Linked DNA regions of Homo sapiens: all the other regions are linked to region 1. The links come from fine-mapping of genetic effects on gene expression. A gene starts in region 1. Each other region holds a variant in brackets. All regions are shown on one strand. Distances are from middle to middle. Region 1 holds the start of LRP3 (LDL receptor related protein 3). Region 2 overlaps FAAP24 (FA core complex associated protein 24). Region 3 overlaps WDR88 (WD repeat domain 88). Region 4 overlaps WDR88 (WD repeat domain 88).

What was found. PIP is the estimated chance that this variant, and not a neighbour inherited with it, causes the effect.
Region 2: its variant is fine-mapped to the expression of LRP3 in whole blood (TOPMed, PIP above 0.99).
Region 3: its variant is fine-mapped to the expression of LRP3 in blood mononuclear cells (TOPMed, PIP above 0.99). The same link has a PIP of 0.9 or more in whole blood.
Region 4: its variant is fine-mapped to the expression of LRP3 in whole blood (INTERVAL, PIP 0.93).

The regions. Positions count from the first base shown.
Region 1 is chr19:33,191,006-33,199,108 of GRCh38, reverse strand. LRP3 (LDL receptor related protein 3) reads right to left here and starts at 4,779. Exons shown (of 7, transcript NM_002333.4): 1 at 4,251-4,779; 2 at 2,332-2,379. The coding sequence starts at 4,323. RefSeq lists enhancers at 175-344, 1,506-1,565.
Region 2 is chr19:32,974,230-32,982,332 of GRCh38, reverse strand. It overlaps FAAP24 (FA core complex associated protein 24), which reads right to left. Exons shown (of 5, transcript NM_152266.5): 5 at 4,104-5,902. The coding sequence ends at 5,651. It overlaps RHPN2 (rhophilin Rho GTPase binding protein 2), which reads left to right. Exons shown (of 15, transcript NM_033103.5): 15 at 2,077-3,741. The coding sequence ends at 2,337. Among named protein-coding and RNA genes, the nearest start is that of FAAP24, 6.0 kb to the right of the region's middle. The variant G/T (reference allele first, on the strand shown) is at 4,829.
Region 3 is chr19:33,147,999-33,156,101 of GRCh38, reverse strand. WDR88 (WD repeat domain 88) reads right to left here. Exons shown (of 11, transcript NM_173479.4): 5 at 7,192-7,330; 6 at 4,792-4,921. Among named protein-coding and RNA genes, the nearest start is that of WDR88, 20 kb to the right of the region's middle. RefSeq lists cis regulatory regions at 4,735, 7,987 and enhancers at 4,651-4,820, 7,903-8,072. The variant T/C (reference allele first, on the strand shown) is at 3,765.
Region 4 is chr19:33,157,819-33,165,921 of GRCh38, reverse strand. It overlaps WDR88 (WD repeat domain 88), which reads right to left. Exons shown (of 11, transcript NM_173479.4): 8 at 5,426-5,508; 9 at 1,657-1,725. It overlaps LOC124904691 (a long non-coding RNA gene), which reads left to right. Exons shown (of 2, transcript XR_007067228.1): 2 at 5,267-6,151. Among named protein-coding and RNA genes, the nearest start is that of TRT-AGT1-3, 15 kb to the left of the region's middle. RefSeq lists a cis regulatory region at 4,581 and enhancers at 4,497-4,666, 5,010-5,419. The variant C/T (reference allele first, on the strand shown) is at 4,472.

The DNA of each region.
Region 1 (8,103 bases):
AAGAGGTCTGTCTGAGCTTCAGCTGGAGGTGACCTGACTTCTCTCAGGCAGAAGATGGCCTGGGCCCTCGGAGCCATGGTGGCCCACACAAGTAGGGAAGGAATGACCAGGTACTTTCGGGCCAGTGTCCTTTCCTGGTCCAAAGAGTCATCAAATATTCCTGAGAGGACACTGCAAGGCCTGAGAAAGCACAATTTGCAGATCCAATTTCCAAAGTTGATCAATACCCCCGCCAACCTGCCTGGTGTAATCCGACGACGGGGAGCTGGGAGTCCCACCCCAGACGTGCCGGGGAAGCTGCCAGCTGCCTGCAAACTGCATGAAGCCCCTGCCCAGGCCCTCCCCGTTGGAGCCACAGTAGCTTCAGGGCTGAGCCCAGAGGCTGGGGGGATGCAGGAGGTGTTCTGACCAGTCAGGGCCCAACATACCTGGGCTTAGGATGGGGTTTGCTGAGGGGTAAAAACCTGTGAGGTCCCCAGGTAGCCCTGCTAGACCCTCTGGAGCAACTGAGCCTAGTTAGGGTGGAGAAGGGGCTGGGGGAATGTTTCCCAATCCAGGGTCCCACACAGCAGGAATCCCAGGGAAAGCTCTGGAAATGCAGAGTCATGGAGCTGTGGTGGGAGGTGGGTACCTTGGGCCACCTGCAGGTGGTCAGTAATGCTGGAGGTGTCAGAAGTGGACTCTAGGACAGCTAGGGTCCCAGATCACCACCCATGGCCTTGCGCGCTGGGCGTGCAGCTCCCATCACAGAGGGCACCAGGGGTGAACAGCAGCCGTTGGAGTTTGGCAACGTGGACCCTGCTGGGGCCTGAGGTCTTGACAGCTAAGGACAACCAAACGCAAGGACCTGGACAGTGTCCTCCTCGCCCAAGCTCCATGACTGGCCCTAGTCCCCAGGGAAGCACTTTTCTGAAAGTGGAGTATATACACATTTGGGGTGACACACCCACCAGCAGGAGGGTGTCCTGGGGCTCACATTCATAAGCTGTGACACCCTCATTCCCCCTTCCCCTGACTCTACCATGGCCACAGACATCTGACCCAGGCTGGGCCAGTCAGCCTTTTCCTGGAAATTGGGATGGGAGACTGGGCCTCCATCAGTTGTGTGGACCAGGACAGCAGACAGGGCTGGGGCTAGGTCAGCGCTGAGCAAGGCCCGGCCTTGAGCCAGCCCGAAGCATCAGAGGAGGCCGGGCTCCTGAGAGCACAGCTCAGGGCAGAGAGAGAGGGAAAGAGGCCCAAGCCTGCCAGAGGAGCCAGTGAGCACAGCTTCTGTGCACCCTGGGCCTCCCCTTTGACCACAGCAGGGGTCCCGCTGCCTGACAGCTCCGGGTCCTTTCTCCAGCAAGCCGGGCCCTGCACAGAACTAGAAACCCAGGCACCTCCTGCCCCACCGAGCAGAGCAGCAGGCAACGAACAAGTCAGAGGCCCCCATTGTTCTCCCGGGCTGCACCTTGACCTCAGGTTTTGGTTTTGGTTTTACAGACAGGGTCTCGCTCTGTCACCCAGGCTGGAGCACGGTGGAGCCGTCATAGCCCACTACAATCTCAAACTCCTGGGCTCAAGCAATCATCCTGCCTCAGTCTCCCGAGTAGCTAAGACTACAGGCACATGCCACCGTGCCCAGCTAATTTTCAGATTTTTTTTGTAGAGATGGAGTTTCACTATGTTGCTCAGGCTGGTCTCAAACTCCAGGGCTCAAGCATTCTCTTGCCTCAGCCTCCCAAATGCTGGGATCACAGGCGTGAGCCACAGCACCTGGATGTCGAGACTTTCCCACGGAAGCTGTGATGCAGCTTCTAACTTACACCTTTCTTCCACCCCTGCTCCTGCTTGTCCAAATCTAGTAATTCCCAGGTGGCCCTGCATGGCGTGGCATGTCCCCTCCTTTCAAGAAAATTAATAAAGCCTTCTTTCCCTGGCATGGGCCTCTCTGTGTCACCCCTCAGTCATACTCCTATAAATTAAATCCTAGGAAGCTCATGGCCTGCAATGAGGCACAAGATGTCAATTCCACGGGACCCTCGGCAGCTTGCCGGTGGTATAAAGCCACCACGTGCCAGGCACCACACTAAGAGCTTGCCTCACTGGCTCATGGAATACTAAGAGACAGGTTTTGAGTAGACCTTGTTATTTCACCCACTTTACAGATGAGGAAACTGAGGCTCAGACAAGTTGAAGCCTGTCCAAAGCCAAACAGCTCCTTTGTGATGTAGAAAAGATGCACACAGGAACTCGGGGTAGTGCCAGGACCCTGAAGGCCTGTCTTCAGGGACCACTCACCCAAAAGGGACTGAAGGAGTGGAGGAAGGAGAGAAAGTGCTTACTTACCTAAGGCAGGAACCGCACTGCTGAGTCTCCCGGTGAGAAAGATGTTCACTGTGGGAGATACAAAGAAAGGGTCAGGGGTCCCACATACCTGCTGGGGACCAGCAGCAGCCCATGAGGGACACCACAGCTAAACCCAAGGCTGGCCCGCTGGTCCCCTTCCTCTTACAGGGCAAGGCCCAGAGCGCAGCCCAAGACTGCCCATCAAGAGGGTCCCTACCACCTCACCCCCACCTCCCTGCCTCCATGTTCTGTTATCCAGGCTGGAGTGCATAGCTCACTGCAGCTTCAAACTCCCGAGCTCAAGCAATCCTCCCACCTGAGCCTCCCAAGTAGCTGGAACTACAGGTGTGCACCACTATGCCTGGTTATTTTTTTATTTTTTATTTTTGTAGAGATGAGGTCTCACTGTGTTGCTCAGGCTGGTCTTAAACTCCTGGCCTCCAGCAATTCTCTTGCCTTGGTCTCCCAAAGTGCTGGGATTACAGGCACCTGCCACCGCACCCTGGCCTGCTCCTACAACTTTGAAGGGCTTCCCCCTACCAAGGGGCTTTGCTCGCCCAGCAGCAGCAGAGGCAGGAGGGGAGGCAGTTCTGATAATCCCCATTTACAGGGCACGCAGCTAGTGACGGAACCATCCTCTTCCCCCGTGCCAAGCTGACTTTGAGGAGGAAAGCAGAACTCCCCAGCCACCCCTCAAGCACCCACCTCCGTGGGGTTTGGCCCTTACTTTCACCTTCTGCTCTGGCCCGGGGGGTTACGGGCCCAGAGTCGGGGGGTGGGGGGAAACCCAACTTCCCGGGGTTCAGGATGTGTGTCAGATCCCGCCTGGCCAGGAAGCAGGAACCGCTGCCCCCACCCAGGACACCCAGGCCCCCTGGACAGAGCCAGGCCAAAGCTCCTAAGCATGGAGCGCCTGTCCCCCTGCTCTGCTCACCAGGGATGCCAGCACCCAGCAGCTCAGAGCCCAGCACACATGACCCCGCACTGAGGTTGGGGTGGGCGCGCTGGGGTTACACCCTCAATGCTCCCCAATGGCACATTCCCACTGAGCCAGGCTCACACAGCTGGGGCAAGGGCCTGCCAGAGCCTCGGAGCTCCCTGAGGCCTGGGGGTGATTACTTTGTCATTTCAGTGGCTTCAGCAAACCTGTCAGGTTACAGAGCCCTCACTGGTGACATCACAGGGTGTCCCCTAATGACCCCCAGTTCTTATAATGGCCTCCCTCCTTCATCACAGTAAATAAAGGAGCCATGTGGGTTGGGGATTTAACTCCTCCTCTCGCCTACACAGAGCGCTGGAAAGCTGGACAGAAAAACTCCCGGACAGGGCGGGAGCCCCTCCCACCCCATGCCTGGCCTTGACCGGTCCCTGGCCCAACCCAAGCACCCTCCTAAACTGAACAGGCCTGCCTGGGGGCTGAGAGACACAAAGGGAAAACAGGAGTCCCCTGGAAGCCGCCTCCACACTGGCACCCTCCTCCAGCCCTGCCCCGCACCCCGAGTCCCCATCTGCGGCTTACACCAGCCCCCACCCCAACTCCGGGCCGGAAACAGTTTCTTCTTCAGGGGACAGCCGGCCTGGCCTTTGTCCCCAGCTCCCGGGGCCCCCTCGTCTCCAGGCTCAGCGCGGGCGGGCCGGGTTGAAGGCTGCCGCCTGCACGAAGGGCCTCCTGCCAGCGCTCAGCCCGGGCTCCGGGCGCTACTCCGAGCGGGGCGGGAGCCGGGGCTGCGCCACCAGAGTCGCCCTCCCAGGCCCGGGGCCAGGCGGGCAAGCGGTGCTGGCCCCTCTCTGGGTCTCCGCGCGGGAGCCACCGCGGTGGGGGGCTCGGGATGCCGCGGCCGGAGAGGAGGTCGGTCAGGGCGCGGCGCGGACTGCCATGCGGGGGACCCGGACCTGCCCGGCCCGCGCGGCCCACTCACCCAGACAGACGACGGCCAGCTGCGCCCGGGCGCCCGGCGCGCCCTCCAGCCCCGCGGCCGCGCGCTTCTCCATGCCGGGCCCGGCCGCCCGCGGGCGCCGCCTCCTGCCCCGCGGCTCCGGCTCCGGTTCCGGCTGCGGCTCCGGCTCTGGCTCTGGCTGCGGCTCGGGCTCGGGCTCGGGCTAGGGCTCGGGCTCCGGCTGGCGTGGCTGCTGCGGCCCGGGTGCAGGCGGCGGCTCCCGAGGCGTCTTTGTGCGGTGGCGGTGCAGGCCCGTAGGGCGCGCGCGGCCACATCGGCCGCGGCGTCACGGGCCCTGCGGGGGCTCAGCGGCGGCCGCCAGGGAAGACCCCCGCCCGCCGCTGCCCCCGCGCCCCGGGAGCCCCGCCGCGGCCGGCCTGGGCCCGGGGACCCCCGGCGCGCCCATGCCCCGCGGCGCGCAGCCCGCCCGGCCCCGGCGTCCCCGGGCCGCCCCGCGCTGCGCCCAGCCCGCCCGGCCGGGTGCCGCCGGTAGAGCGTCCGTGGGTCTGTCAGTCCTCCCGCCCGGCCCCTCGCCCGCGCCCGGAGCCTGGAGGCCGCGCTGCGCCAGCCACGTGACGCGCCCGCCGAGCCGCAGTGGCGCTGGCTGGGCGGGCGGAGGCGGCTGGGGCGGGCCGGGGGCGCACGCCCCGCCTCGGGGTGCTGGACAGCTCTGCGCACCAGCCCCGCCCCGCCCGCGCCCCCCGCCGCGCTCCCCGCGCTCCAGCCCAGTGCTCCAGGCAGCCGGTGCTCGCCTGGCCTCCTCCCGGGCCCACGAATTGATCCCTCCTGGAGCCGGCTGTGCTGAGGAGGACCGGGGAGCGAGGACTGGGAAAAGGTGGGAGAGAGAGGACGGCTTAGGGACCTCATAGGGGTGGCACAAGGCTAAGGCCTGTCTTCTTCGCAAGGTGTCCCTGTTCCTGCCCCTCCGCTTCTTTCATTTGCCACAGTCCAAGTGCCCTGTCACGTCTCTAAGAGGAACCCCCTGTGCCAAGCAAGACCTGTCAGGGGACATTGGTGAACACACCAGAGGCCTCTGGAGATCTCCCAGGGCCCCCTGAGCCCACCCTGTTACCCACTATCCTCGTGAGGCTGGGGACTTGGGAGGAGGCCTGCTTCTTAGGCTGGGGGTGCCCTCTGGAGAGCTGCCCACCAAGAGGTTGAGTCCAATGAGGCAAGAACCAGGAGAGACAGGGGGAAGGTTTGAGAAGGCCATTTAGGGCCAAGACGGATGTGAAATCAGAGGTCCCCAAAGGCTCCATGGCACAGCGGGCCCACCAACCTGAGCTGAGGCTCCCAACCCTTTTCTAACACCCCCAGACCCTCATTTGATATTCTCCGTTTATGGAGAGAAGGTTGAGAGAAACTGATGGTCCGTTAGTGAAAGCGTAGACAGTCACTCACTCACTCGCACTGTGCAGGTTGATTGGATTTTAATAAAAAATGGGGGGAAGAAAAATCCTTTTAGTTTTTCTGGGTTTTCTTATTCTCTCTCTTCTAATTCCTTTGGTGATTTTTCCAAAGCAGACTTCTTAGGAAATGTATTAAAGGACGTAAAAATCAAATAACAAGATACATTACAGATTGATGGCATAGAGCACTAGCCTATGTGTAATTTGGTTTCAGAATTTCCTCAGACTGCTGACTGCGGATGAGCAGGCATTTATTTACGCATGGCAAAAATGCTCAACAGAGGCAGGGGCAATGGTAGGGTGGATCTGCGGTTTGTTCGTTTGTTGTTGTTGTTGTTGTTGTTGCTGCTGCTGCTGCTGCTTCTTAGTTTTTTTAGAGACAGTCTCACTTTTTCACCCAGGCTAGAGTGCAGAGCTGCAACCATAGCTCACTGTACCCTCAAACTCCTGGGCTCAAGCAATCCTCCCACCTCAGCCTCCCAAGTAGGTGGGATGACAGGTGTGCACCACCATGTCAGGCTAATTTTTTCATTTTTTTGTAGAGACAAGGTCTTGCTCTGTTGCCCAGGCTGGAGTGCAGTGGTGTGATCACGGCTCACTGCAACCTCAAACTCCTGGACTCAAGGGATCCTCTTGCCTCAGCCTCCCAAAGTGCTGGAGTTACAGACAGGACCCACCACACCTGGCCAAAATATGCGGTTTTGTTGAAGATGCTGCCTGCTTCAATGCATGTTTTGCACGTTATGTAAGGAATCTAGGGTCCAGACCAATGACCAATATGGGAATCATGTTGGAGCCTGAAGCAAAAGAAAAATGTGAGCCCCTAGACACACTTATCAAAATATCCTCCCATATTTTGAACCAAGTGGAAAGGCTAAGAAAAGCTCTACAATCACATGACTATATCTAAATCTCCATGCTCCCCAATCTATGCACATCCCATTGTGAACCCTCATAAACCCATAAGGCAAGAAACGGCCAAGGTACCCAGGAACCTTGGGCTGATTGGAAACAACTGTCCCCATTGCACACACACAAAAAATTTGCATTAAAGTTGATTTATCTTCATTATTGAGTTTTTTGGCACTTCCTTCAATTCTGTGCCCAAGGTGAGTGCCTCACTGCCCTATCCTACTCCCGGCCCATATTGAGACCCCGGCCCATAACTGACACCCCATTTCCCGTTTGTCTCATGATGGTCTAGTGCCCCCTAGAGGTTGCTGTGCCAGGCAAGACCCTTGCTGGGGGTCCCCAATGCAGCTCTGGCCCAGTCCTCTCCCCCACCGCCCTCTCACCACATCTGGAAAGGTTCCTGGTATTCCTGTCTCTGCTTCAACACTCTTCCACGCTAGCTGCAATCGCCTGGGTCTCTCCACCTCTGAAACCTTTTCGTAAACCTCCCTCATTGACTCAAGCTATATCCAGAACGTGTCTATTCATCACAACCCAAAAGCTTCTAACCATTGGAGAATTCAGTACTGGGAAGGAGATGGTGGGCATGGACCCAGAATATGGGAACTGACTGGCTGGGGCAGGTGAGGGAGCAGTGGTGGGGCAGAGGGCTCAGACATGAGAGCAGGGGCTTCCTGGCAAGAAGCTGGCCTTCCCAGTTAGGAGGAAGCAAAGCTGCTGTCACAGTCACTGTGGGCCAGTGACGCCTTCAGGAATCTGCTGCAGGAGTGAGGAGCCACAGGACATGCAGAGAGGAGACGGAAGGGACACAGAGGCATCCCATGTAAGTCCCCACTCCATCCCATACGAGAGGGCCACCACCATTGCCCACTCATCAGCCACATACCCCGAGCCCTCGTGGGACACAGAAGAAACCAATGACACAGGAGAGTCCCACATCCTCCCCCAACATTCACCCACAGGCAGATGCAAACTCAAGCGCTCTCTTATCCAGTTGCTTACCAGACACTAATGAAGAGGACTCTGTGTTGAATGGTCAGTGTCTTTCCTGATTTCAAATAACTAGAACCAGCCAGGCACAGTGGCTTACACTTGTAATCCCAGCACTTTGGGAGGCCGAGGTGGGCAGATCACTTGAGGCCAGGATTCGAGACCAGCCTGGGCAACACAGCAAGACCCTGGCTCTACAAAAAAAAAAATTTTAATGTGCTGGGTGTGGTGGTATGCATCTGTAGTCTGAGCTACTCAGGAAGCTGAGGTGGGAGGATTGCTTGAGCCCAGGAGTTTGAGGCTGCGATGAGCCATGATCGCACACTGCACTCCAGCCTGGGCAACAGAGTGAGATTCTGTCTCAAAAACAACAACAACAAAAATCCTACAATCTATTTGAAGGTCAAAGGCCAAAAGTGGCTTTGGCAAATAAAACTGAAAAAAATTGTTTTATGATCACCTTTATGCCCAAGTTTATCACAGGTGACTTCCAAGAGGGCAAACCTCTCATTATTCTAGCTGAG
Region 2 (8,103 bases), 220 kb after region 1:
TGGGTTCAAGTGATTCTTCTGCCTCAGCTCCTGAGTAGCTGGGATTACAGGTGTGCACCACCACACCTGGCTGATTTTTGTATTTTTAGTAGAGATGGGGTTTCACCATGTTGGCCACGATGGTCTTGAACTCCTGGCCTCAAGTGATCTGCCCAACTCAGCCTCCCAAAATGTTGGGATTACAGGTGTAAGACACTGTGCCCGGCCCCTCTTAGGGTTTATATTAGGAACAATGTCCTCAACTATTGCAGCGATATATTGTATGCCTAATTTTAGTGCCAGAACATAGTAGACCATCAATAAACATGTGGCGAACTAAACAATCTCAATGTTAGGCAAACCTTAGAAGCCGGTGATAGCCCATGTGGAAGTCTTCAGAAAGCAAGCTTCCTTAGATTTCCAGTTTGAATCCTACATGATTCTTGGAAAGTTAATAGTAGAGAGTGTTTAATGGTACAAAGTTTCAGCTGAGGAAGATGAAAAAGTTTTAGAGATGGATGGTGGCAGTGGAGCATAATGATGTGAATGTAATTAATGCCACCGAACTCTACACTTGAAAATGATAAAAATGGCACTCCAGCCTGGGCGACAGAGCGAGACTCCATCTTAAAAAAAAAAAAAAAAAGGAAAAAGAAAAAAAAGAAAAAAAGAAAATCAGGTGTAGAATAGTGTAGTATATTCCTTTTAAGAAAATGAATGGTAATATACTTAGGTACATATAGAAATACTTGTACATCATCTCTAGAAGTATAACATGGAGGGCCTTAGAAGCCCAGGTGACAGGGAGACCTATTGCTCACTGCATACTCTTTTTTTTTTTTTCCCTTCCCTTGCCCTCTTCCATTCCCTTCTCCTCTTCCCTTTCCTTCCCCTCTTCCCTTCCTTTCCCCTCTTCCCTTCCCCCCGCCCCCCCCCTTTTTTTTTATTTTGAGACAGAGGTCTCACTCTGTCGCCCAGGCTGGAGTGCAGTGGCACAATCACAGCTCACTATAGCCTCAACCTCCTGGGCTCAAGCAATCTTCCCCTCTAAGCCTCCCAGGTAGCTGGGACTGTAGTTGTGAGCCACCGCGCCCCACCCTGTACTTTCATATTCGTGACCATGAGTATTATTACTTTCTCAAATAGAAGAAGAACCTTAAAATATGAGTTGTGGCTCCTAAGCTTAAATTGTTACTATTGAGTACATTCCTTAAAAATTATCCTTGTTGGGCCGGGCGTGGTGGCTCACGCTTATAATTCCAGCACTTTGGGAGGCCAAGACGGGCGGATCACGAGGTCAGGAGATCGAGAAGGGGTGAAACCCCGTCTCTACTAAAAATACAAAAAATTAGCCAGGTGTGGTGGCGGGTGTCTGTAGTCCCAGCTACTCAGAGAGGCTGAGGCAGGAGAATGGCGTGAACCCGGGAGGCGGAGCTTACAGTGAGCCGAGATCGTACCACTACACTCCAGCCTGGGCGACAGAGTGAGACTCTGTCTTAAAAAACAAAAACAAAAAACAAACAAAAAATTATCCTTGTTGGACCTGGTGGTGCACACCTAGAGCCCCAGCTACTCAGGAGGCCAAGGCAGGAAGATCGCTTGAGCCCAGGAGTTTAAGACCAGCCTGGGCAACATAGCAAGACCCTGTCTCAAAAAAGAAAAAAAGTTTGTCCTTGTTTTAAGAACCTAATTCTATATAAGCATTGGTCACCTGAGTTTCCGAATTATGTCTGTTCAATTTATTTTTTGGAGACAGAATCCTGCTCTGTCACCCAGGTTGGAGTGCAGTGGTGTGATCTCAGCTCACTGCAACCTCCACCTCCTGGGTTCAAGTGATTCTTGTGCCCAGGCTCCAAGCAGCTGGGACTACAGACATCCACCACCACACCTGGTTAATTTTTGTATTTTAGTAGAGATGGGGTTTCACCATGTTGGCCAGGCTGGTCTTGAACTCCTGACCTCAAGTGATCCGCCTTCCTCGGCCTCCCAAACTGTTGGGATTACAGGTGTGAGCCACCGCGCCTGGCCAAACTTCGTAGTTTTTATCATCTATCTTGATGATGCCTGACGCCCTTTTTCTTACTTTTCTATGTGCAGCATAATAAGAGTGCCACATACTCCGTGGGAATGCAGAAAACGTACTCCATGATCTGCTTAGCCATTGATGATGACGACAAAACTGATAAAACCAAGAAAATCTCCAAGAAGCTTTCCTTCCTGAGTTGGGGCACCAACAAGAACAGACAGAAGTCAGCCAGCACCTTGTGCCTCCCATCGGTCGGGGCTGCACGGCCTCAGGTCAAGAAGAAGCTGCCCTCCCCTTTCAGCCTTCTCAACTCAGACAGTTCTTGGTACTAATGTGAGGAAACAAACATGTTCAGGCCCTGAACATTTCCGGTGCTGACTCGGCCTTAAACGTTTGTGCCATAATGGAAAATATCTATCTATCTGTTCTCAAATCCTGTTTTTCTCATAGTGTAAACTCACATTTGATGTGTTTTTATGAAGGAAAGTAACCAAGAAACCTCTAGGAATTAGTGAAAAAAGAACTTTTTTGAGGTGTGTTACTATACTGCTGTAAGTTATTTATTATATAAAGTATTGTAAATAGAATAGTGTTGAAGATATGAAATATGGCTATTTTTAATGGTGACAATTATGACTTTTAGTCACTATTAAATTGGGGTTACCTATATCAGTACAATTTGTAGTTGTTTCCAGGTTTGGCTAATAATCATTCCTTAACCTAGAATTCAGATGATCCTGGAATTAAGGCAGGTCAGAGGACTGTAATGATAGAATTAAATTAGTGTCACTAAAAACTGTCCCAAAGTGCTGCTTCCTAATAGGAATTCATTAACCTAAAACAAGATGTTACTATTATATCGATAGACTATGAATGCTATTTCTAGAAAAAGTCTAGTGCCAAATTTGTCTTATTAAATAAAAACAATGTAGGAGCAGCTTTTCTTCTAGTTTGATGTCATTTAAGAATTACTAACACAGTGGCAGTGTTAGATGAAGATGCTGTCTACAAGGTAGATAATATACTGTTTGATACTCAAAACATTTTTCATTTTGTTTAAAGTAGAAGTTACATAATTCTATATTTTAAGTCTTGGGTAAAAAAGTAGTTTTACATTTTATAAAGTAAAGATGTAAATGATTCAGGTTTAAAGCTCTATTTGACTTCCTTTTTTTGTTTGAGATAGCGTCTTGCTGTGTTGCCCAGGCTGGAGTGCAGTGGTGTGATCTCAGCTCAGTGCAACCTCCGCCCCCTGGGATCAAGCGATTCTCCTACCTCAGCCTCCCAAATAGCTGGGACTACAAGGTGCCCTCCAGCATGCCTGGCTGATTTTTGTATTTTTAGTTGAGGTGAGGTTTCACCATGTTGGCCAGGCGGGTTTCGAAATCCTGACCTCAAATGATCCACCCACCTCAGCCTCCCAAAGTGCTGGGATTACAGGCATGAGCCACCACAACCGTCCCACTATTTTACTTTTTAAAATGACATTCCTACTGATTGATTTTTATCTTGCTATAAGTTCGATGACACCGTGAATCTAATAAGGTTCACTGTTGACACAGTACAAGTTACATAGCTAAAATACATAGCATTGAAGACTAATTTTAAGGATTGACAAGAGTTTATTTTCTATTGTGCAATATCTTAAAGGAAGCAACCACCTTTGGGAAAGTGTATCTGCTGCTCCTAGGGCCATGCTTGTATACATATTTAAATAAACATATTCATTTACCCGAGTTAATATTTCTTTTTACTTTTATTTCATTTTCATTCCCTCCTCTTTCAAATTGTTTCTCCCCAATGCACACAGTTTCTAATGTTCTGATTTTTTTAGTTACTAACATTTCACAAAGCAGAACTTAAAAAGCTGTCAAGTTATCTTAGTATTTTCTAAGACAGATGGTATCTTTGTGCTTATTTTTTGTTTTTGTCTTTTTTTCAAGACAGGGTCTCGCTTTGTCACCCAGGCAGGAGGACAGTGGCGCAATTGTGGCTCATGGCAGCCTCAACCTTCCGGGCTCAAGCAATCCTCCCACCTCACCCTCCTGAGTAGCTGGGACTACAGGCATGAGCCACCATGCCTGGCTAATTTTTTTGATTTTTTTGTAGAGATGGGGTCTTGCCATGTTGCCCAGGCTGATCTCGAAATCCTGGACTCAAGCAATCCTCCCACCTCAGCCTCCCAAAGTGCTGGGACTACAGGTGTGAGCCACTGTGCCTGGCCTGTGTCTATTTTTTGAATGGGCAATTTGTACCTTTTGATCCCCAGCCCCTGCTTCCCTCACTAGATGCAGCTGCTGCCATCATTTTCTTGTATCCTTCCATTGTTGGGCCTTTCATATACAAACACAGCCTGTTCTGCCTCATGCATGTTGAGTTTTCAACTTTAAATTTTTTTTTTTTTTTTTTGAGATGGAGTCTCACTCTGTCATCCAGGCTGGAGTGCAGTGGTGCAATCTCGGCCCATTGCAACCTCCACCTCCTGGGTTCAAGCGATTCTCGTGCCTCAGTCTCCTGAGTAGTTGGGATTACAGGTGTGTGCCACCACACCCAGCTAATTTTTGTATTTTTAGTAGAGACAGGGCTTCACCATGTCGGCCAGGATGGTCTGGATCTCCTGACCTTGTGATTCACCCCCCTTGGCCTCCCAAAGTGCTGGGATTACAGGTGTGAGCCACTATGCCCGGCCGTTGAGTTTTCAACTTTAAGTGGGAACTTCAGACTTCATACTTTCTGTGTGCAGAAGACATATGCAGTGATTATAAACAAACTGTACATCTGCCAAAAAAAAAGGCCGGGGGGAGGGAGGAACAAAGGAAAGGA[G/T]GAAGGAACTGTTGCGCAGTTATTTATTTACATTGGAAACAGCCCTCGCAGTACGGGTATATGAAGGCCAGACCTGATGAACAGCAGGTGAAACTCTGGGAACCCAGGGCTTAGGATACACAGTGCTTCCTTGTACATTTGTTTCCTTCAGATGGTCACATCCACCACTGAAGCTTTTTAGAAGGCACTTTCCATGACAGATGCAGGTCAAGGTCGCACATTAAAATCGGCCCTAATGCTTTTTGCTGAGTGTGAGTCCCTGACTCTCTTGCGAAGATCCCACCAGCCCTTTTCGTCTTAGCAGAATGAAGGCAGTGCCCTCTGCGGCCCACTAACTTCACAAGCTGAACTCAGACGCTAAGGCAGGACGACCCACGGGCTCCATTCAAGCCTCGCCTCATCTTTCACTGGTTGCTGCTGGAGAAAATCCTTTTTCTTTTTTTTTTTTTTTTGTTGTTTTCTTTGAGACGGAGTCTCGCTCTGGTGCCCAGGCTGGAGTGCAGTGGCACGATCTCAGCTCACTGCAACCTCCGCCTCCCGGGTTCAAGTGATTCTCATGCCTCGGCCTCCCAAGTAGCTGGGATTACAGGCACCTGTCACCATGCCTGGCTAATTGTTCCTATTTTTAGGGGTTTCTCCATGTTGGCCAGGCTGGTCTTGAACTCCTGACCTCAGATGATCCGCTGTCTTCGGCCTCCCAAAGTGCTGAGATTAGAGGCGTGAGCCAGTGCACCCGGCCCATTCTCTTGGTTTTTAAAGCTGAAAACAAGATCCTGGTGTTTGTGGTCTCAGGAGAAGATGCCGTGGCCCTGAGGCCAGCCCTCACCTGGGCTGCGTGAAGAAGGCATGGATCTGCTGTGCCACTGCTTGTCCGACCACCTGCTCCAGTTCCCCAATGGAAGCATTACTCAGTTGCTGGATGCTTGGAAACTTCTGGAGGAGAAGGGGAGCTTTAACTTTTCCAACTCCTGGGATCTGCTGCACGGTTCGAAGGAGCGAAGGCTCAGACAGCAGCAGGGCCCGTTTCTTCCCGAGAAGAGGGTTCTTACTGGGCTCTTTGGTTTGCTCTTGAACCTGAACCACAATGAAAGCAACAGCACGTGAGCGCCCTCTGGAGGACTGGCCGTTTTCTTAAAATATGTTTTGTAGAAATTGCGTTTTTCCATTTGGCTCAGCTTGACTTAAGGGAACAAATGTTTTCATGTATCATGAATATAATTTCTCAGACATCAGTAAAATTATTGAAAGGTGAACCACACAAAGGAGTTAAGACATTAATTTACAAAAATGTGCGTTTTCAGAATGTTTAGAAAAACACACAGATGAATTCAAACACTTTCTGTTGGTCCATTAAGAAACATTTCAGTTGTGCAGGATTAAATGATGGCTACACCTAAACTAGGCCTACTTCACGCAGGAGCTGCAGGAAGCCTGCCTCAAAGGAGAAACCTGGTCTAGTTAGTGGTGGTTATACTAAGGCAGACAACAGTGTTATATCAAGGAAAGTTAGGAACGGTGACGCAAGGGATATAGTAGAGAGGGATCTGTGAACCATTCATGGCTGCTTGCATCTTCAATGTGGCTCTCAACTCTAGCTCCACATCAGAGGGGGTGATTTAAAAACAACACACACATAACAAAGAAAACAAAAGTGAAAAAAACAAACAACACACACACACAATTGATGTTCCCCATGCTGGGATCAGAGGCGTAAGCTACTAAACTGATTTTAAAAATAAGTGTTGGCGGCCGGGCGCGATGGCTCACGACTGTAATCCCAGCACTTTGGGAGGCTGAGGCGGGCACAACACCTGAGGTCGGGAGTTCGAGACCAGCCTGACCAACATGGAGAAACCCCGTCTTTACTAAGAATACAAATTAGCTGGGCGTGGTGGCGGGCACCTGTAATTCCAGCTACTCGGGAGGCTGAGGCAGGAGAATCACTTGAACTCAGGAGGAGGAGGTTGCAGTGAGCCGAGACTGCATCATTGCACTCCAACCTGAGCAACAAGAGCGAAACTCCATCTCAAAAAAAAAAAAAAAAGTGTTGGTTGGTGCGGTGGCCCAGAACTTTGGGAGGCTGAGGCAGGCAGATCACCTGAGGTCAGGAGTTTGAGACTAGCCTGGCCAACATGGTGAAACTCTTATCTCTACTAAAAATACAAAAATTAGCCGGGCATGGTGGTGGGTGCCTGTAATCCCAGGTACTAGGGAGGCTGAGGCAGGAGAATCGCTTGAACCCAGGAGGCAAAGGTTGCAGTAAGCCAAGATTGCACCACTGCACTCCAGCTGGAATGACAGAGCAAGACCCTATCTAAAAAAAAAAAAAAACTGCCCAGGCATGGTGGCTCACACCTGTAATCCCAGCACTTTGGGAGGCCAAGGTGGGCGGATCATGAGGTCAGGAGTTTGAGACCAGCCTGGCCAATATGGTGAAACCCTGTCTACTAAAAATACAAAAATTAGCCGGGTGTGGTGGTGCGTGCCTGTAGTCCCAGCTACTCGGGAGGCTGAGGCAGAAGAATGGCTTGAACCCGGGAGGTGGAGATGGCAGTGAGCCAAGATTGTACCACTGCACTCTGGCCTGTAGGACAGAGCGAGACTCCGCCTCAAAAAAAAGGGAAAAAAAAAAAACTTGCACAAGGTGCTGATGCTTAACAAAAATACGGGATGAGACAAAGCAGCTTCTAGTTAACATTTTCTTTCTTTCTTTCTTTTTTTGAGACAAAGTTTCGCTCCTGTTGCTCAGGCTGGAGTGCAATGGAGCATCTCCACTCACTGCAACCTCCACCTCCTCAGTTCAGGTGATTCTCCTGCCTCAGCCTCCGGAGTAGCTGGGATTACATGCACCCACCACCACGCCCAGCTAATTTTTGTATTTTTAGTAGAGACAGGGTTTTGCCATGTTGGCCAGGCTGGTCTCGAACTGCTGGCCTCAAGTGATCCTCCCGCCTCCGCCTCCCAAAGTGCTGGGATTACAAGCATGAGCCATCACGCCTGGCCTCTAGGTTGACGTTTTCACCAGCGAAAGGGCAGGATAATGACTGATGGAGCCATCACACCCTGAGAATCTAAAATCAGGTCTCCAACTTGTATACTTTGTGATACACTTGCCTGGAGTGTGTGACAAGCTGAGCTGGCTGCAGAGGCAGCTTCCGCATTTAAATTCCTCGAAGAGATTTTATAAACCAAGTCAGAGAATGACATAGATTGGATTGATGGTTGCTTCTGGAGAGCAGCTGAGTGTCCATGAGGACAGGACTACCACGAAGGTG
Region 3 (8,103 bases), 43 kb after region 1:
ATTTCTCGACTGCACCAATTTTTAGAAAAATAATAATAGAGACAGTGTTTCGCTATGTTACCCAGGCTGCTCTCAAACTCCTAGGCTCTAGTGGTCCACCTGCCTTGGCCTCCCAAAGTAGTGCTGGGATTACAGGCGTGAGCCACGGCACTGGGCCAACCACACCAAGGTGGACATTTTGAGCTGGGTCACTCAGAGTTGTGGGGGCCGTCCTGTGTTCTGTAGGAGGTGGAGCAGCATCCCTGGCCTCTCCTGGCTAGATGCCAGGAACCCCCACACCCAGTTGTGACAACAAAACATGAGTCCAGACATTGTCAAATGTCCACTGGGGCACAAATTGCCCTCATTTGGGAAGATTCTGCAGTATTCCCTTGGCGCTGGAGGGAAAAGCAGCTGGTGTCAGGAGTGATTGATTGACAGACAGCCTTTGGGGCTTGGTGCTGGGTGGCGCTTACACAGAGGCTCTCTCCTGCTCCCCATCTTTCCCCCAACAATGTCAGGCGTGGTCTCCCCCTGTTCCACCCCTCTCTTACTTACTCCTCTGCTTCTCCACCCCAACTATTCACTCTCCCTTTTTCTCACTCCTATCCTCATTTGTCTTCAGTGCTATTCAAGTATATTTCAGTGTTGTATATTTAATTAATAAAATTGTGGGTTATTTGGCTGGGTGCAGTGGCTCATGCCTATAATCCCAGCACTTTGGGAGGCCTAGGTGGAAGGATTGCTTGAGCCCAGGATTTTGACACCAGCCTGGGCAACATAGCAAGACCCCATCTCTACAAAAAATATAAAAATTAGCTGGGCATGGTGGCACATGCCTGTAGTCCCAGCTACTCTGGAGGCTGAGGCAGGAGAATCACTTGAACCCAGGAGGTGGAGGTTGCAGTGAGCCAAGATTGTGCCATTGCACTCCAGCCTGGGCAACAGTGCAAGACTCTATCTCAGAAAAAAAATGAAGTTATTCATTCCAATTTTTAAGCATCTTCTTTTTCAGAAAAATAATAATAATAAAAAGCCTGTCTGTATTTTGCCACTTTTTGTTTGTAACCCTCAATGTCTTTCTCCTGTGATTCTCACCTCCTCTTGTAAGCAGAGTTTTCTCTGAGTAGCCTGGATCATAAAATCAATCATTTGACCTGAAGAAAAGGTTGAGCAAAACAATTTTCTAGAGCTCAGATCAGAGTTTTGGAACCCATTTTGGTTCTTTGAAAGGCACAAACTGAGCAACGCCAAAGGAGAAGAAATGTCAACTTCGCAGGGCCATCCGGGATAAACCTCACCAATTCCCAGTGCCTGGTGAGCTAAGAACCATGCTGGCATATCATGGAGGTTTGACTGCAAGCTCTCCCAGCAGCCAGACACTGTCATTGAGGTTTAAACCAGAGGTATACCCAGAGGATTATAAATCATTCTTCTATAAATACACATGCACACGTATGTTTATTGCAGCATTATTCACAATAGCAAAGACTTCGTGTCAACCCAAATGCCCATCAATGATAGACCGGATAAAGAAAATGTGGTACATATACACCATGGAATACTATGCAGCCATGAGAAAGAATGAGATCATGTCCTTTGCAGGGACATCATCCTCAGCAAACTAACACAGGAACAGAAGACCAAACACCACACGTTCTCATTCATAAGTGGGAGTTGAACAGTGAGAACACATAGACACAGGGAGGGGAACATCACACACTGAGGCCTGTCAGGGGGTGGGAGGCAAGTGGAGGGAGAGCATTAGGGCAAATACCTAACACATGCGGGGCTTAAAACCTAGATGACGTGTTGATAGATGCAGCAAACCACCGTGGCACATGTGTACCTATGTAACAAACCTGCACATTCTGCACATGTGTCCTGGAACTTAAAGTAAAAAAAAAGACATAGCAATTTCTAAATAAATAAATACATAAATAAATAAATAAATAAACCAGAGGTATCTCTATGGACTCTCATTTCACATAAATCCCACTTCTCGTAGAAGGCCATTTCACCTGTACAGAAGTTTGGGGAAAATGGCTATGCTGCACGTACAGTTCTGGACAAGATGGAGTCAACTTTAAAAGTAATTTTTTTAAATGGCTGAAATTTTACCAAATTTGGCAAAATATATAAACCTACAGATTCAAGAATCTGAGTAAAACCCAACAGGATAAATCCAAAGAAATCTACACCCAGACACATAATTACACTTCAGAAAACTAAGGACAACAAAAATATCTTCAGAGCAGCAAGAGAGAAATGACTTTTTACCTATAGGAGAAAAACAATATGAATGACAGTGTAAATGAAAACCACAGTGTGGCCAGGCACTGTGGCTCATGCCTGTAATCCCAGCACTTTGGGAGGCCGAGGTGGGTGGATCACAAGGTCAGGAGTTTGAGACCAGCCTGGCCAATGTGGTGAAACCCTGTCTCTACTAAAAATACAAAAATTAGTTGGGCATGGTGGCGGGCGCCTGTAGTCCCACCTACTCGGGAGGCTGAGGCAGGAGAATTGCTTGAACCCGGGAGGCGGAGGTTGCAGCGAGCCGAGATTGCACCCTGCAAATGATATAGCTGATCTTGCTAGAGGATTTAAAAAATTCATAATGTCGGTCGGGCTATATCATTTTCAGTTCTCAGTGCAAAATTAATAAGCAAGATCCCCACTCCTGAAAAAGCTAAGCACAGTATTACCATATGATCCAACAATTCCACTCCTGGGTATACAGAGTAAAGAATTAAAAACAGGCCAGGTGCAGTGGCTCACACCTGTCATCCCAGAACTTTGGGAGGCCAAAGTGAGAGGATCACTTGAGCTCAGAAGTTCAGGACTAGCTTGGGAGACATAATGAGACCCCGTTTCTGCAAAAAAAAAAAAAAAACAAACTTAAAAATTAGCCAGGCATGGTGGTGTGCACCTGTAGTCTCAGCTACTCAGGAAGTTGAGGCAAGAGGATCACTTGAGCCTAGGAATCCGAGGCTCCAGTGAGCTATGATCACGTCACTGCACTCCAGCCTGGGCAACAGAGCAAGACTCTGTCTCGAAATCAAATAAAATAAAAAGAATTGAAAGCAGGAACTCAAAGTTACATGTACATGTGTTCATAGCAGCATTATTCCCAATAACTAAAAGGTAGAAACAGCCTAAGAGGTCATCAACAGATGAACAGATAAACAAAATGTGGTATGTACACCTATAATGCAGTACTATTCAGTCATCAAAAGGAATGAAGTTCTTAATCCCAGCACTGTGGGAGGCCGAGGTGGGTGGATGACAAGGTCAGGAGTTTGAGACCAGCCTGGCCAACATGATGAAACCCCGTCTCTACTAATAATACAGAAATTAGCCAGGTGTGGTGGTGGGCGCCTGTAATCCCAGCTACTCAGGAGGCTGAAGCAGGAGAATCACTTGAACCCAGGAGGCAGAGGTTGCAGTGAGCCAAGATGGCACCACTGCACTCCAGCCTGGGGGACATAGCGAGACTAAGTCTCAAAGGAAAAAAAAGGAATGAAGTTCTGATGTTCTGATGCAGGCTACAACACAGATGAACCTTGAGGACATTATTTTAAGTGAAATAACCTAATCACAAGAGGACAAATAATGTATGACTCTACTTATATGAAATATCTAGAATAGGCAGATTCATAGAGACAGAAAGTAGAATAAACATTACCCAGGGCTGGGGGCATGGGGAATGGGGAGTTATTGCTTAACGGGTAAGAGCTTCTGTCTGAGATGATGAAATCATTTTGGAAATAAATAGTGGTGATGGT[T/C]GCACAACACTGTGAATGTAATGAATGGCAGAGAATTGCACACTTAAAAATGGTTAAAATATCATGTTTTATGTTGTGTGCGTGTATATATATATATATATATTTTGAGACAGAGTCTCACTCTGTCACCTAGGCTGGAGTGCAGTGGCACAATCTTGGCTCACTGCAACCTCCACCTCCCGGATTCAAGCTATTCTCCTTCCTCAGCCTCCTGAATAGCTGGGATTACAGGTGCCCGCCACCACGCCCAGCTAAGTTTTGTATTTTTACTAGAGGTGGGGTTTCACTATGTTGACCAGGCTGGTCTCGAACTCCTGACCTCAGGTGATCCGCCCCACTCGGCCTCCCAAAGTGCTGGGATTACAGGCATGAGCCACCGAGCCCAGCCCCAAAATTTTTTTAAATGATAATGTAATATCTCCAAAACGACTGAATTCACTTTATTTATTTATTTTTTTTAGACAGGGTCTTACTTCATTGTCCAGGCTGGGGTGCAGTGGTGCAATCATAGCTCACAGCAGCCTCAAACTCCTAGGCTCAAGCAATCCTCCAGCCTCAGCCTCCTGAGTAGCTGGGACTACAGGTGTGTGACACCACACCCAGCTAATTTTTAAATTTTTTGTAGAGATGGGGTCTTGTGACATTGCCCAGGCTGGTGTTGAACTCCTGGCCTGAAGTGATCCTCCCACTTTGGCCTCCCAAAGCTCTGGGATTATAGCCATGAGCCACACGCCCAGCCAGACCTTCCCATTTTACAGGAGATGCTGGAACTTCACCTTTTGTGGACTTCTCTGCACAATGATTTCCACTAGTGGCTCACATTGAAACAAATGCATCTGAGGCCCAGCCCAGCCCACAGGCCACAGCTGATGGCTCCCTCCTGCCTGCCTGTCCCCAGCCTCCTCAGAGCACCTATGACCAAGCTACAGACGTGTCCACATGGATGCTGGCTTATGTGGAATTCAGGAAGTCATGAATGGGGACGCCCCACCCAAACTCCCTTCTGGCCTCCTGGGGTCCAACTCACTTAGTGATGGTGAGCAGCGTGGCCTGGGATGTAACATCCCAGATCTTGATGCACCTGTCCAATGAGACAGAAGCCACCCTCTGGCTGTCGGGGTCAAAGCAGCATGACGTGATGGACCTTGTGTGATGATCTGCAGAACACGGAGGAAAGGGACTTGAGACCACGCCTTCCACCTGCTGGGCTGGAGGACTCCCACGACTTCCCCAGCCAGTGACGATTACAAAACACAATTCCAGTTTTCATCAGGAGCTACACACCTGCACAAACATTCCTGAGTGACTACTATGTCCCAGGCTTTGAACCGGGAGCACAGCAGGTTCCCTGCCCCCGCAGAGCTGCCAGTCTGATGGAGGAGACACCCCGGACCAGGCAACGACCTGCCACATGCCACAGATCATGAGATGAGTGCACGGGCCACCAAGGCCCAGACAACATAAGCCTGGCCACCCTGAGGGGTCCAGGAAGGGCCCGAAAAGCCAGCAAGGGAAGCAGAAATGGAAGAGCACTCCAGGAAGAAGGAACAGTGCTTGCAAAGGCCTGGGCCGGATCATGGAGCAGTGTGGGGCAAAGCTGGAGTCTGAAGCATGGTGGGGTCAGAGTGTCAAGTGGGCTCTTAGGGGCTATTAGGGAAGCTGTGGGGCAGTGCACATGGCATAGTGCCACATCGATAAAAAGAAACACAAAGCACATATGAGAAGCAGTGTTGTGTGTGCAAACACTTGTACGCACAGGCATACACACAGGGTTCAGGAAGACTGCCCAGCAATGTATGGTTCATAACAGGTGCCTCTGGGGAGGAGACAGGACAGACACAGCAGCCTTTTGCTTTTTTATTTACATAATGAATGATTTTTTTATTTTTGAGACAGGGCCTCATTCTGTCACCTGGGCTGGAGCGCAGAGGCGCGATTTCGGCTCACTGCAACCTCCACCTCCTGGGTTCCAGCAATTCTGCCTCAGCCTCCCGAGTAGCTGGGATTACAGGTGCCCGCCACCACGCCCGGCTAATTTTTGTATTTTTAGTAGAGACAGGGTTTCACCATGTTGGCCAGGCTGGTCTTGAACTTTTGAGCTCAGGTGATCCACCAGCCTCGGCCTCCCAAAGTGCTGGGATTACAGGCATGAGCCACCACGCCCAGCCCATAATGAATGTCTTTACAATGATTACACATTTTTTTAACTTTAATTTTAAGATAATTGTAAACTCCCATGGAGGTGTAAGGAATAACAGAGAAATCACCCATGTCCTTCACCCAGCAGCCCCCATGGGAACATGTGGTATCATCATCACACAGTGTCCCAACCAGGAAACTGTCATACAACAATTACTAAGTCCTATATTTTAAAAATAGGCTGGGCACAGTGGCTCATGCCCGTAATCCCAGCACTTTGGGAGACCAAGGCGGGCAGATCACCTGAGGTCAGGAGCTCGAGACCAGCCTGCCCAACATGGTGAAACCCCATCTCTACTAAAAATACAAAAATTAGCTGGGCGTGGTGGTGGGTGCCTGTAATCCCAGCTACTCAGAAGGCTGAGGCAAGGAGAATTGCTTGAACCCAGGAAGTGGAGGTTGAGGTGACCCGAGATCGCACCACTACACTCCAGCCTAGGAGACAGAGCAAGACTCCATCTCAAAAAAGAAAAAAAAAAAAGATACAGGTAGGCCGGGTGAGGGGGCTTCTCCTATAATCCCTCACTTTGGGAGGCTGAGGCAGGAGGATCCCTCGAGGCCAGGAGTTTGACATCAGCCTGGGCAACATAGCAAGACTCTGTTAATGTTAACTCTGTTAATGTTAATGTTAAGAAGCCTGAGCCTCCCCTCAATAAAAGATTAGGCTGTCAATGACCACATGAGGTTGGAGCCGAACATTGTGTCCTTTGTTAAAAGCACAAGACTGAATGAATGGAAAAGCATTAACTGAAGAGGATCAGTTTTGGTGTGTTTTTTTGTTTGTTTGTTTGTTTTTTGTTTGTTTGTTTGTTTTTTTGAGATGGAGTCTCACTCTGTCTGCCAGGCTGGAGTCCAGTGGCTCAATCTCAGCTCAATACAATCTCCACCTCCGGGTTCAAGTGATTCTCCCGTTTCAGCCTCTCAAGCAGCTGGGACTACAGGTGCATGCCATCACACCTGGCTAATTTTTGTATTGTTTTTGGTAGTGACAGGGTTTCACCCTGTTGCCCAGGCTGGTCTCAAACTCCTGGGCTCAAGCAACCTCCCAAAGTGCTGGGATTACAGATGCAATCCCAGCCACCGCACCTAGCCTAGTGTCCCAGCTTTAATGACGTGCTTCATACCATTACAGTTTCACCAAATAAAGCAATGGAAGGTCACCGTCAGTCAGTGACAAGTGGCTATTCCTATGGCAGACTGAAGATACAGGGAGCCCGCACACCCTCACCTTTGATGACGGAAACGGTGGTGATGTTCTCGGCGTCCATTATGCAGATTCCATGATCCACGTCGAAGCCTGAGACCACGTATTTACCATCAGGAGAAAACTTACAGGAGACGATGAAGGTATCATACCTGACCTTCCACTGAAATGAGCCAGCAATCAAAAGGTTGTTTTAAGCCAGGTGTGGTGTGTTACACCTGTAAACCCAGTGCTTTGGGAGGCCAAGGCTGGAGGATCGCTTGAGACCAGGAGCCTGAGACTAGCCTGGGAAACATGCAAGATCTCCATCTCTACAAAAGTAAAACATGAGCCAGGTGTGGCGGTGCTCGCCTGTAGTCCCAGCTACTTATGAGGCTGTGGCGGGAGGATCATCTGAGCCCAGGAGTTTGAGGCTGCAGTGAGCTACGATGGCGCCACTGTGTTCCAGCCTGGGTGACAGAGCTTGCAAGACCCTGTCTCTAAAAATCATCATCATCGTCATCATAAAATAAAAACTTGGCTTATCTTGTCTTTCTAAAAATGTTTACAATGAATACAAACTGACCTTTGCACTAACAAGAAAGGTTGTTTTTTAAGGAAAGGAAGGAGGAAGGGACAGAAAAGGCCTGCAGGAGCTGAGAGGGAGGGACGGCAGGGGTGAGGCAGGAGACCCCGAGGAGGCCCCTGAGCAGAGCTGAGGGTGCCTGGAAGGGGTGCAGGGCCGAGTGGGAGTCTTGAGCCTGTGGGATGGACGGAGAGTGACCCCCTCCAAGATATAAAGAGAACAGACTGGTAAGGGCCAGAACCCTGGTTCTTGGGGGCACATGGCCTTTGTCCCATGGCCTCAGCCCCACTTCCTGTCTAATCAAATCCAAACATCTTACCGGGGAGCCTGGAATACCAGCCCCCACACCCCACCCCCAATTCTGGCTTCTT
Region 4 (8,103 bases), 33 kb after region 1:
ATTTTTTTTTTTTTTTTTTTGAGACAGAGTTTCGCTCTTGTCACCCAGGCTGGAGGGCCATGGCTTGATCTCGTGATCTCGGCTCACTGCAACCTCTGCCTCCCGGGTTCAAGCAATTCTCCTGCCTCAGCCTCCCGAGTAGCTGGGATTACAGGCACCTGCCACCACGCCCGGCTAAGTTTTGTATTTTTAGTAAAGACGGGGCTTCACCACGTTGGCCAGGCTGGTCTCGGACTCCTGACCTCAGGTGATCCACCCGCCTCGGCCTCCCAAAGTGCTGGGATTACAGGCGTGAGCCACTTCACCTGGCCAATATTTTTATATTTTTCTCAAACATATTTGTTTAATTTGCCCTACTGTTAATTACTACTAATTGTCGCTGTTCACTAGTCCTGTTGTTTTGCTTAAATAATAATATTCATGGAACAAAAAAGTAAAAAATATAAAATAATGTATAATTTCAAGTAAACCTTTACTTCTTATTTTTATATTAAAGTAGTAACATATAGGCATATAATCTTTTGCTATATATTGTATTATTATGGGTTTGTTGTTTTTTTTTTCTGATATGTTTGTATTCCAAGTTGGCTCTCTGAAAAGTTGATCATGCTAGGCAGCGCCTCTCCCACAGTCTCCTGGATTTAGAAACCTCTAGCCTAGAACATGACATGCTCAAATAAAGGGGTCCCCGACCCCCCAGTCTGTGGCCTGTTAGGAAATGGGCCACACAGCAGGAGGTGAGCAGGGGTGAAGCTTCATCTGTATATATAGCTGCTCCCTGTCACTAGCTTTACCACCTGAGCTCCACCTCCTGTCAGATCAGTGGCCACATTAGATTCTCACAGGAGCACGAAGGCTATTGTGAACTGTGCATGCAAGGGATCTAGGCTGTGTGCTCCTTATGAGAATCTAATGCCTGATGATCTGTCACTGTCTCCCATCACCCCCAGATGGGACCATCTAGTTGCAGGAAAACAAGCTCAGGGCTCCCACTGATTCTACATAATGGTGGGTTGTATAATTATTTCATAATATATTACAATGTAATAATAATAAAGTGCACAATAAATGTAATGCTCTTGCACCATCCCAAAACCATCCCCCGCCCCCCAACCATGGAATAATTGTCTTCCACGAAACTGGTCCCTGGTGCCAAAAAGGTTGGGGACTGCTGCTCTAATATGGGTGGAGGGCGGAGTAGGTCCCCACTTCTCCGGGGTTCACACCTGCAGGACAGCTGTTGGGATATCCTGGGCTGGCTGCTATGTGCCAGTGGAATGGGAATCTCAAGATGCAGTGCTGCAGGAAAGGGAGACCCCCCCGGACCTTGGGCAGTGTCAAAGGCTTATCCATGAGTTGATGCTTTCCCTTCAAGTCCCCCATTGGCTCCATTGCTCACTGATCCAGCCAGACTCTTTTTCCAACAAAGTTCAAATGTCAACGGTACAGACACAGAAATACCTGGAAACTCCAAACTCATCGCGTTTGCGCATAGAAGGACATGCTGTCCACATTCCCAGGCAGCTCCGTGAACACGATGGCCCGGTCAGGTACAGCTCACCGAACCCACCCAGGAATTTTATACTTGGCAATAACTCTTCCACTATCACCAATCCTGGCGAACGTGATCGATATTGTAAGCTTGACCACTTTTACCTTGGAAGCAGACAGGATCCATTTCTTGTTGTTGCTAATGGCAACATCCATCACCCAGTCATTATGGCCCTGAAGAAATATCAAATTTTAATGAAAACGTGGAGAAAATAATTTTGAAAGAACAACAAAAACAAGCTGGGTGTAGTGGCTCACACCTGTAACCTGCCTTTTGGGAAGCCGAGTCGGGAGGGTCACCTGAGCCCAGGAGGTGGAAGCTGCAGTGAGCCATGATTGCACCACTGCACTTCAGCCTGGGCAACAGAGTGAGGTCCCATATCTAAAAAAACAACAAAAAGTCAAGAACCCAGTGTTGCTTACATTTAAGAGTAGCTGGCTGAGTGCAGTGGCTCATGCCTGTAATCTCAGTACTCTGGGAGGTTGAGGTGGACAGATTGCTTGAGTCTAGGAGTTTGAGACCAGCCCGGGCAACATAGTGAAACCCCATCTCTACTAAAAATACAAAATATTAGCCGAGCATGGTGGCATGCGCCTGTAATCCCAACTACTCAGGAGGCTAAGGTGGGAGAGTCACCGGAGCCCGGGGAGGTTGAGGCTGCAGTGAGTCATGATCATGCACTCCAGCCTGGGCAACAGAGTGAGACTGTCTCAAAAAAAAAAAAAAAAGGAAAGAGCAGAGCAGCTCATTGTACTTCCTCGGTTTCATCAACAACATTTAGGGTGGAATACAAAGTGTAAAGACATGTGATATATGTACATTCTATTTTTTTTGTTGTTGTTGTTTTTTGGGGTTTGTTTGTTTGTTTGTTTTGAGACAGAGTTTTGCTCTTGTCGCCCAGGCTGGAGTGCAATGGTGCAATCTCCACTCACTGCAACCTTCACCTCCTGGGTTCAAGCAATTATCCAGCCTCAGCCTGCCAAGTAGCTGGGATTACAGGTGCCCATCACCATGCCCAGCTAATTTTTTTTTTTTTTGAGACGGAGTCTCGCTCTGTCACCCAGGCTGGAGTGCAGTGGTGTGATCTCGGCTCACTGCAAGCTCCGCCTCCCAAGTTCACGCCATTCTCCTGCCTCAGCCTCCCGAGTAGCTGGGACTACAGGCGCCCGCCACCACACCCGGCTAATTTTTTGTATTTTTAGTAGAGACGGGGTTTCACTGTGTTAGCCAGGATGGTCTCGATCTTCTGACTTCGTGATCTGCCTGCCTCGGCCTCCCAAAGTGCTGGGATTACAGGCGTGAGCCACCACACCCCACCTAATGTTTGTATTTTTAATAGAGATGGAGTTTCACCATGTTGGCCAGGCTGGTCTCGAACTCCTGACCTCAAGTGATCCACCTGCCTCAGCCTCACAAAGTGCTGGGATTACAGGCATGAGCCACTGCGCCCTACCCATTCTATATTTATTTATTTAGTTATTTTTATTTGACACAGGGTCTTACTCTGTCCCCCAGGCTGGAGTGTAGCAGCTCAATCATAGCTCACTGCAGCCTCAACCTCCTGGGCTCAAGTGATTCTCCTGCCTCAGCCTCCCGAGTAGCTGGGACTACAAATGTGTGTGCCACTGTGTATGGTTTTTTAAAATAGTACTCGGGTGTTTAGCAAGATTGGGGGAGAAATATTATATTCCCAGCTGGTCTCAGGTTTTCATTTGCATTCTTTGTTCTAGGAAATACCCCTCAGAGGCCCTGTAAGTGAGGGGGCTTTTCGCTTCCAATAACTGCAAACTCGATCCACTGTGGCTTAAGCAGAGAAGGAGTGGGGTGTTTTCTTTGGGTACATAGGAGCTCAGAGCAGGCCGGGCGCGGTGCTCCATGCCTGTAATGCCAGCACTTTGGGAGGCCGAGGCGGATAGATCACGAGGTCAGGAGATCGAGACCAGCCTGGCTAACATGGTGAAACACCATCTCTACTAAAAAATAAAAATTTAAAAAAAAAAAATTAGCCGGGCATGGTGGTGGGCACCTGTAGTCCCAGCTACTCAGGAGGCTGAGGTAGGAGAATGGTGTGAACCCAGGAGGCGGAACTTGCAGTGAGCCAAGATCATGCCACTGCACTCTAGCCTGGGCGACAGAGCGAGACTCCCGTCTCAAAAAAAAACAAACAAAAAAAACAGCTCAGAGCAGATAGCTGCCATTGCTGCCTCAGACACTGAATGATGTCTGGGCTTTATGCCAGCATCTCTGTCCTTCTTTGGCCTTCCCCGTATGGAAAGAGGCAGAAAGTGAGGCCATAGTGTGGTTAGAGAAAAAGGAATCAGAGGGAAGGTTAAACCGCTTAGTGTAATTAAAGGACAGGAATTTGAGGATGGGAGCACAGAGAAAGAGGAGAGAAGAGGAGAGAGAATAGAACAACCGGCTCTGTCACCCAGGCTGGAGTCCAGTGGTGCAATCTCAGCTCACTGCAGCCTCTGCCTCCCAGGCTCTAGAGATTCTTATGCCTCAGCCTCCCAAGTAGCTGGGACTACAGGTGGGCATGACCACACCTGGCTAATTTTTGTATTTTTAGTAGAGATGGTGTTTCACTATGTTGGCCAGGCTGGTCTCGAACTCCTGACCTCCAATGATCCTCCAGCCTCAGCCTCCCAAAGTGCTGGGATTACAGGCATGAGCCACTGTGCCTAGATGACAGAGGGACTTTAAGCACAGAGAGGTTTAACATTCCATTTTAATCCGTTTATTTGCTGTGAGGAAACTCGCTTTGTCTCCCCAAGTCCTAGGAGAAGACAGCTCAGATAGACCAGCCCCAGGGACCTGAATATGGGCTGCTCAAGGACACATGTCTACTTTGTGTCCCTGGGAACAGAAAGACCAAGAATCAGGGATGCACGCATTCACAGCCAAAGGTGACAGTGAGAT[C/T]GTGAAACCAGGGAGTATGCAGAAATCCTGGGGTGTGGGGCCCCTTGGGGGAACAGGGGCACAGCATGAGGCAATTGTGGGTTCTTGCTGTGTTGGATAACACATCCCCGTATCATAGAGCCACTCTGAGTTGGGGCTCCTCTCATCCTCTCACTTGTAGCCCAGAGCATTCAGTTGACATCCCCATTTTGGAACCCCAAGCTTTCTGTGCATGCCTCACTAGGGCATGCGTCTCTCTTCAAGGTAATTTCTGTTTTTTGTTTTGTTTTGTTTTGTTAGAGACAGAATCTCAGTCTATCGCCCAGGCTGGAGTGCAGTGGCACAATCTTGGCCCAGTGCAACCTCCGCCTCCCGGGTTCAAGCGATCCTCCCACCTCAGCCTCCCAAGTAGCTGGGACTACAGGTTTGCACCACCACACCCGGCTGATTTTTGTATTTTTAGTAGAGACGGGGGTTTCACCATGTTGGCCAGGCTGGTCTCAAACTCCTGACCTCAGGTGATCCGCCCACCTCAGCCTCCCAAAGTACTGGGATTACAGGAGTGAGCCACAGTGCCCAGGCCTGCACAGTAACTTCTGCTGTTCTTAGACACTCCCACCTCAGGGTTTTTGCATCAGCTGTTCCATCTGCCTGGACTGCCCTTCTTCTTCAAGATCCCCACTTATGTAGTCCTTTCTGTTCTCAGCTCAAACACCTCCTTCTCCAGGAAGCTCTGCCCATGCAATGTGGATGGGTCCCCCGCCTCTGTCCCCATCATGTCACCCTGTTGTGGTTTCTCCATTTCACTCCTCACAGTCGGTGGTGTGTTTGCTGGCTTCCTGTCTGTCCTTCATCAGCCCACAGAGGCATCAAGGCCTGTGTCACTCACAGCTGTGTCCCCAGCAACCAGCATTGAGCACAGGAAGGACTCGGGAGGGAAGTTCAGATCCTCAATCTCATGCTGGCCACATGTACCTTCAAAGAGAGCTTCCGGTAGCCTTCTGCTACATCCCAAATAGCCACAGTCCTATCAAACCCTCCAGAAATGAGAAAAGAGCCTGCAACAGAAAATGAAAGGGTGGAGATGGGGGTCAACTTTCCAAGCCAAGTGAGCCCAAAGCCAGCTGAAGATGCCTTGGCGAGGCACCACCTCATCTCACTCTGACAACACTGAAACCCCTTCCTGGAGTGGCTCCACGACCCCAAGCCAATTACAGCTGATTCTTATCATTTACAGTAGTCATGTTCTATGACAGGGGTCCCCAGTCCCTGGGCCACAGACTGGTACCAATCCATGGCCTGTTGGGAACCAGGCCACCCAGCAGACAGTGAGTGGTAGGCAAGCAAGCCAAAGCTTCATCTGTATTTACAGCCACTCCCCATCGCTCGTATTACCACCTGAGCTCGGCCTCCTGTCAGATCAGCTGCAGCATTCGATTCTCACGGGAGCATGAACCCTATTGTGAACTGCGGATGCGAGGGATTAGGTTGTGCACTCTTTATGAGAATCTAATGCCTGATGATCTGTCACTGTCTCCCATCACCCCCAGATGGGACCATCTAGTTGCAGGAAAACAAGCTCAGGGCTCCCACTGATTCTACATGATGCTGACTTGTATAATTATTTCACTATATATTACAATGTAATAATAATAAAAATAAAGGGCACAATAAATGTAATACACTTGGGTCATCCCGAAACCATCCTCCACAGCTCCCATTTGTGGAAAAGTTGTCTTCCATGAAACCTGTCCCTGGCGCCAGAAAGGTTGGGGGCCTCTGCAGTTTTTGCAGACACTGAATTAGTGAATACTGAACCATCGCTCCTAGGGGAAATACAGGGTCAGTTTCCTGCGAGCTCTGGTCACATTCTCATCAGTTGATCAGTACGTAACTTTGTTTTATGTGTGTTTCTGTTTAAAGACACCTTATTGCATATATACTGTTGATTTGTTTACATTGAACTCACAACCAACAGCTGTAACTCATGCCTGAATGGATGCATGCATTTTCCCCATCATAGCACTCTCGCGCTTAGGAACGGCAAACAGCACTTCGGCACTGTGGTTAGGGATCATTTTATTTGTTATTTATTTATTTATTTATTTATTTATTTATTTATTTATTTATTTATTTTTAGAGATAAGGTCTTGCTCTGTCACCCAGGCTAGAGTGCAGTGATGCAATCAGCTCACAGCAGCTTCAAACTCCTGGTCTCAAGCAATCCTCCCACTTCAGTTACCAAGTAGCTGGGACTACAAGCAGGTGCCAGCACACCTGGCTAAATTTTTTTTTTTTGTTTTGGTAGAGATGGGGTCTCACTATGTTGCCCAGGCTGATCTCAAACTCCTGGGTTCAAGCAATACTCCCGCCTCAGCACCCCCCCAGCACTGAAATTAAAGCTGTGAGCCACCACACACGGCCAAGGGAGCCATTTTACACAGCAAAATCACTAACAAAAAGCAAAAGAAAGCCCAGGTGTGGTGGCTCACGTCTGTAATCCCAGCACTTTGGGAGGCTGAGGCAGGCAGATCACATGAGGACAGGAGTTCAAGACCAGCCTGGACAACATGGCGAAACCCCATCTCTACCAAAAATACAAAAATTAGCCAGGCATGGTAGTGCGCACCTGTAATCCAAGCTACTTGGAAGGCTGAAGCAGGAGAATCGCTTGAACCCAGGAGGCAGAGGTTGCAGTGAGCCAAGATCGCGCAACTGCGCTCCAGCCTGGGCAACAGAGGGAGCAAAACAAACAAACAACAACAAAAAAAAATGGTGGCACTAAATAGACCACAAAAAGGACATTTTACCACGTGGGAGGTGAAACAAGAAGGCAGAGTGTTGCCTTGTCCAACCTCAGCTGGGAGGTGACTTAGATTTTTTGCTGCTCTTCACATCTGTGAGTGACCTTGAAAGTGCCATGAATGTTGACTTTAGGTTTACAAATAAATATCAGCAAGTAGGTGACTTCACAAATACAGAATCAGGAATAATAATGATTAACTGCATGTGATTCTTTTTTTTTTCTTTCTTTTTTTCTTTTTTTGAGACAGAGTCTCACTCCGTCACCCAGGCTAGAGTGTAGGAGCGCAGTGGCACAATTTTGGCTCAACTGCATGTGATTCTGAACCCCATAAAGCCAAGGACAGAAGCTGGCAGGGTGCCTCACAGTGGGACTTAGACAAGGGGTGCTGCTGAAGAGGGAAAGTTGCCCAGAAGCACCCTAGTGCTTCTCAAGCCAGGCCCCAGTGGCATGTGTGCCAGCTGAGGCCCCCAGACACACAGAGCAAGCCCCACTTCTCACCAGGATAGGGGAGCATATGTTTGGCTCCTGAGTGTCAAGAGCACCCACTTCCCTCCCTGGAGCTGGCTAGCCGCGGTGGCTTCCTGTCACTGCCCCCATTCACCTCTATGTCCCTTTATCTGGCAACAGCTCCCAATTTCCTGTGGGGAAACACTCCTTGCCTACTCTTAGTCCCTCTGCATCAGGGGGTTCTGACCCCAACCCTAGCTCTGCAGGTGGGCAAGTCACCCAGACCTGGCCAATCAGAGGCTTTCGTTGCCCCCTAAGTGATTCATTAAGAGATGGACATGTGTCCCAAGCTGAGCCAATGGGAGTCTTCCCTGGGACTTGTTCTGGCACCATCAGACAG